Regions from separate parts of the Homo sapiens genome. Here region 1 is linked to region 2. Evidence: fine-mapped expression QTL. A gene starts in region 2. The other region holds a variant in brackets. All regions are shown on one strand. Distances are from middle to middle.

Region 1 (2,916 bases), 54 kb after region 2:
GCAGTCCTCCTGCCTCAGCTTCCTAAGTAGCTTTGAAGCTTGGACTACAGGCATGTGCCACCATGCCCAGCTAATTTTTTTAATTTTTTGTGGAGACAGGGTCTCAGAATGTTGCCCAGACTAGTCTCAAACTACTGAGCTCAAGCAATTTTTCTGCCTCAACCTACCCAAATGCTAGAATCATAGGCGGGAGCCACCACGCCTGTCCTGAAAGATTACTTTTTAAAAATAATTTGAGGCTAAGGTAAAAATATTTTTCTCCACAGACAATTTTTATTTCATTCTTCCATGTTCATGGGCACTGTGCCAGTAATCAATTTATTGTCTCTCAACTCCAAATCACTCCTTTTTTTTACCTACTTTGTGATATTAGAACTGGACTCTGTAAACATTTCTTTTTTATTGCCCGCTGATTTGATTTTAGGTTTTGTCAACAGATAGAGGGCATGGAAAGACATTGTCGGTCCTTAGCAAGAGGAAGAGACTTTTCTTCCAGCTTCTGGTGTGCTTTTTTTTTTTTTTTTTTTTTTTTTATACAGCTGTGAGCCCATCACCATGTGGGAGGTCTGTTAGCTCACTTCAGCATCTTTCAAGTACCAGTTCTGGCCTACCTGCACATTCTGGTGAGTTTCTCTACCAACTGCTGGCCACTCTACAAACCATCTCTGGCCTGTGTGCTCTGGTGAATTTTTTCACTATTGGCAATCTTTAGATTTTTGTGGCTGCTGGGCCATTTCCAATGAGGACTATGTGTCTGGTGGTTATTGGGGGCTCTTCTACATTTTTAGTTCCTTCTTGTCCCTATGTATTTTCCTTCAGCCCTAAAAGTGGGGCTTCCTGTATTTGCTAGTTTAAACATATCCCTTACAGTCTTCTTTTACCCCCTTTAGTAATTAACTACCCTTCATAATGAAAAATATTTACATTAAAATTTTCCCAGTTCTGGTTTCTGTCTGATACAAGCACACTACCAGCTCAGGACCTCCTTAGTAAGTTCAAAGTTCTTGCTTATAGTCTCTTTTTATCTTGTGTTTCTCATTATCCTTTAGAATTGAATGTTGTTTTTGAAATTTTATTTGTAGAAATATTTTGAGGCTAAGGTAGGGTTTTCTTTGTCCAGAGGTGATATTCATTTGCTTCTGACAGGTACATGGAGATGCTCCCAGTCCAGTATGTGAATCCATGTTCAAGGCTTTTAGTTCCTTGAACGTGATGTTAAATTAAGTCTAGTGATGCCTCGTTTATTTCTGTTCATTTTCACTCTGGAGGATGTAGTTTTTTGGGTCCTAGCTTTAATTGGAGGTGGTTTCTCAGATATCCCACCTTTAGAAGGCTTTTGGACTTTGGCTTTTCCCTTTTAGCCCTGGGGAGCCACAAAAATCAAAGCTCATTTCCACACTTGTTACTTGATGTCAAAATTAGCTTTGAGTCCCGAGGTTAACTCTCTGGATTCTCATGTTCTTGATTTTAGCCCAGTAATCCTCACTGTCGTTTTAGCCTTTTATATGTTTAAGAAGATT[T/A]TTTGAAAATTAATCCAACTTTTAAAGAATTTTCAATGGCTGGGCGCGGCAACTCACGCTTGTAATCCCAGCACTTTGGGAGGCCAAGGCGGGCGGATCACCTAAGGTTGGGAGTTCCAGACCAGCCTGACCAACACGGAGAAACCCCGTCTCTACTAAAAATACAAAATTAGCTGGGCATGGTGGCGCATGTCTGTAATCCCAGCTATTCGGGAGGCTGAGGCAGGAGAATTGCTTGAACCTGGCAGGCGGAGGAGGTTGCGATGAGCCGAGATCGCGCCATTGCACTCCAGCCTGGGCAACAAGAGCGAAACTCCGTCTCAAAAAAAAAAAAAAAAAAAAAAAAAAAAAGAATTTTCAATTGGAGGCCTGGTCTGAGTTACTCAGTCTGCCATTACCAAAGAAGGTAACCATCTGCCATTAAAAATATAAGCACAAAGACAGAGAACCTGTGGAGCTGATAGTCTGTGCTTTTTTTTTTTTTTTTTTTGAGACAGAGTCTCGCTCTGTTGCCCAGGTTGGAGTGCAGTGGCACGATCTCGGCTCACTGCAACCTCCGCCTCCTGGGTTCAAGCGATTCTCATGCCTCAGCCTCCTGAGTAGCTGGGACTACAGGCACCTGCCACCACGCCTGGCTAATTTTTGTATTTTCAGTAGAGACAGGGATTCACCATTTTGGCCAGGCTGATCTTGAACTCCTGACCTCGTGATCCGTCCGCCTTGGCATCCCAAAGTGCTGGGATTACAGGCATGAGCCACCATGCCCGGCCGATAGTCTGTTTTAATTATGATTGCAGGTTTGGAGCTACTGTGGAAATCTTTGCAAGAAGGACTTGACATAGAGTAGAGAAAGATAAATTATCTGGTGCTATAGTGTGAATTTTTAAAGAGTAAAAAGTTTTAGTGTAATGTTTTCTTCTATTAGAAATGTGCCAAAACAGCCCAATGGAACAAGTGACATTCTAGTATTATTTAGATTTCTTAATTTGATAAAATAGAACTTGTCAGAATTTATAGTTCCATTAGGATATGAAATTTGTGGGTTTTGGGGCATTTTTGTTGGTTTGTTTAGTTTTTTTGGTTTTTTTGAGAAGGTGTTTTAATCATGCCTCTACCAGTTATTGCTGTGTGACCTTGGACAAGTTCCTTGACCTCTGTGTGAGTTAGTTGCTTCAGCTATAAAGCAGGATAATAATTGTACCTATTTCATAAGGCTTTTGTGCTTAGAATAGTACCTGGAACATAGTAAGCATTGTGTAAGTATTAGTTATTATTATGTATAATATCATACTCTTTTATAACTTTTATTTTTTTCTTGGCAACGCTTCTTTTACATTGTAAAATGTCTGTTTTAAGGGAAGGCAGGGTAGAAGTTTGTGTTTTTTTTTAACTTTTA
Region 2 (2,916 bases):
TATATTAAAGGACAGCCGGCATGTAATGTATTTTGATGCTTTAAGGAAAAACATCAGGTTGATTTCATTAAAGTGATGGTCTGCCCAAATATTTTGCATATAACAGTATCTTTAAGCAGTCTAAAGGTAAAGATATTGTAGACTTTGGAGGCCCTAATGTTGGCATTGCCTCTGCCAATATTTAAGGTATTTGACGTATTGTCTTAACATGCCAAATACCTTAAAATTGCCCTTACAGGATTGCGAAGAAAACTGATGAGATGTACATGCTTGCGTCCACCATGTTTAGTTCGTAAGCATTCATTAATGTATTTTTTCCTTTCCGTTTCTTTGAACACTTCCTCAGTCCTTCATTCCAAAATTCCTGTGCTATCTCGGTATTCTCTGAAAACACTGCCAGACCTAAGATGCAAAGTGGCTTCCTTGACTACAAGATTTGGCTTGGCTTTGTCCATGAAACAAGGTCACCAGTGTCTCACCCTGGGGGCAAGTCTGGGCTTAGAGCTAGAACAGGACTGTAATCCTTGTATTTCAGGCCTTCTTTTAGCTTTAGTATGTAAAATGCTTTAGTATCTACTGATATTTAGCCATGCCTAAATTCGTAACAAGGACACAAAGAAATAGTCTTTTCCCCCTCTGTAAAGCCCACGTCATGTTCTTCCTTTACTGCAGGGCCTCTTAATGGGGCTTAAAACCTAGGATGGGTTAAGTAAACAATGTAGGTGAGTTTAGTGTGCAAACAGCTGAAATCACCGGCTGCATTTTAAGCTCGTCTACAGCAGCAACCTGCAGACACCTATTCAGAGAGATTACTAAATTCCCTCCTTCCCATTAATAAAAAGGACCAGAATATCAGTCTACAAAAGACACTGCGTTGCTGCGAACCAGCTCTCGCTTGCGCGATCAGGAAGAAGGGCGGCAAGGCTGGAGCCTCGGGACCGGAGAAAGGCAGCCTGCTTGTGACGTCAAATCAGCGGACTCTTATCTTGGCTTTAGGCCGGTTCCGGTTCCCCGGCTTTCCGGGCGCGAGCGTGTGCGAGCGCGGCAGCGTACTGCGCGTGCTCCGCAGAGGGACACGGGAAGGTTGGGTCCGGCTCTGGAGGAGATGCGTGATTGGCTGACGCTGTGCTCGGGGGTTCCCTGGCCCTTTCGGCAGGGGTAAAACAATAAGAGGGGGCGGTGGCAAAGGGGGCGGGACGTCCGTGGTCCTTGTCGCACGTCGCAGCGCCTGGCGCCCGGGAAGAGGTGGTTGTGAGGCAGACGAACTCGCGGCTCTCCGGCTTCCGAGGCTTCCGAGTTGTCGGAGGAAGGGGGCGGCGAGCAATAAGAACCCGCCGCACCCGGTCCTCAGCGACTCTTCTGACCTCCGCGCGACGTACCCGCCGCCGCCGTTGGCTGGAGGTGTGTACGGGCGCCGGGAGGGGAGGTCGGTGTGGTGGTCGGAAAGGGACATTCCATTCGCGCTCCGCGGCGCGAGGCAATCGTCCGGTGTGTGAGCCCGGGAGCCGGAGGTGTAGCGGCAGAGACATTGTTCTTGCCGGCTCCCTACGGTGCCGTGTGTGCGTGAGAGAAGACCAGTCTTTCCTCTAGGTGAGGGGTGGGAGGCCGCCTGGGAAGGGAGGTGACCCGCGAGCGTCTTGCGGGCAGAGGGCTCCGAGTGCACAGGTGGGGTTGAGGTTTATTGGGGATGAGGTGGCGAAGTGGGGGGGGAGGCACGCAGCAGCTCCCGAAGGCGCGCTGATGGAAGCTTAATACAGGAAGTGTGGGAGCAGGCTTTCTGGAGGGGATGTTTTAGGGTGGGTAGCCCACCGTTCCTGTTTCCGAATCGTTTTCGGCTCTTGTACCTTGTTCCTTCGGAGCGGAGAGGCCGTCGCCACCCCGCCCGTGGGGGGAGGGGAAAAGAGGTTGTGTCGACGGAGGCAGAAGCGACGCAGATGCGAAAGTGGCGGCCTCCGGGCACCATTTCTGTGCACGGAAACAGAATCCGGGTTTGAAGGCAGCCGCCGCTTCGCTTACCCAGTACCTAGTGTTCCGTCGTGTTTGACCAACCCCCCTCTCCCTGCCACCGCGGGTTTAATCCGAACGTGTTCGGATACTGGAACTGTAACGTGCGCCTTCTTCGTCCCCCTCTTATGCAGACGATCCCTTATTGACTCGGGAATGGCTTTTGGGGGATGGGTTCCCGCTTTTGTTGGGATGGGGGGACAGAAAGGAACAGAAGCTTCCCTAGATTGTGTTGATTTTGTTAGTGGAATCTGATAGAATTTTTCCTGCGTCTCTAAAAGCAGATTTCTTAAGATGGCCCTTTGCCGCTTTGGGGCGAATATAGATTTTCGTCTATAATTTCCTGCATAGATCAGCTTTTTTCCCCAAGACATACTTAATGTTCTAACGGATTTGGGGGGTGGGAGGAGAGTGCCTTTTCCTTCATAACAACAACAAAAAAAAGGCACTTGCACTTTTAGCTGGAATAGTAAAGTCCTGTTCTCCCTGTATGATTGTTGTGGGATATTAACTTGGATTAAGATACTGTGGTTTTAGGTTCAAGGCTCTGTACCTTGTTCTGGTCTTTCAAACGTTAGTGTTGCAGGTACCTGGATCTAGGAAACATTAACTGTCGTTAAGAGAGCCCCGGTGTACTAGAGTGGGAGATGATGGCAATTTTTCTCTAGCTCCATATTTGGCAGTTAATATAGCCTTAGGCATGTGAACCAAGTTTCTAAGTAAACTTTTGGCCCTGTTAGCATCCAGTGGTCTTTTTGATAATCCAAGATTCCTGGTCTTAGGAGATAAACGGTACGATGAGTTTGAACCTCAGGATTGAATTATCCTTTCTTTGGCAGTAACATTTTTCTTAAATGTTTAAGATTACTCTTATGGGCCTTTATGTTATGATTTAATCTTTACAAACTAATT

Evidence for each region. PIP is the estimated chance that this variant, and not a neighbour inherited with it, causes the effect.
Region 1: its variant is the best candidate, but not a certain one, in a credible set for the expression of G3BP2 in whole blood (INTERVAL, PIP 0.86).

Annotation. Positions count from the first base shown.
Region 1 is chr4:75,617,195-75,620,110 of GRCh38, reverse strand. The region is part of intron 2 of CDKL2 (cyclin dependent kinase like 2); the gene reads left to right. Among named protein-coding and RNA genes, the nearest start is that of CDKL2, 12 kb to the left of the region's middle. The variant T/A (reference allele first, on the strand shown) is at 1,521.
Region 2 is chr4:75,671,693-75,674,608 of GRCh38, reverse strand. It overlaps G3BP2 (G3BP stress granule assembly factor 2), which reads left to right and starts at 1,198. Exons shown (of 12, transcript NM_203505.3): 1 at 1,198-1,401. RefSeq lists enhancers at 1-362, 1,099-1,388, 1,669-1,908, 1,341-2,318.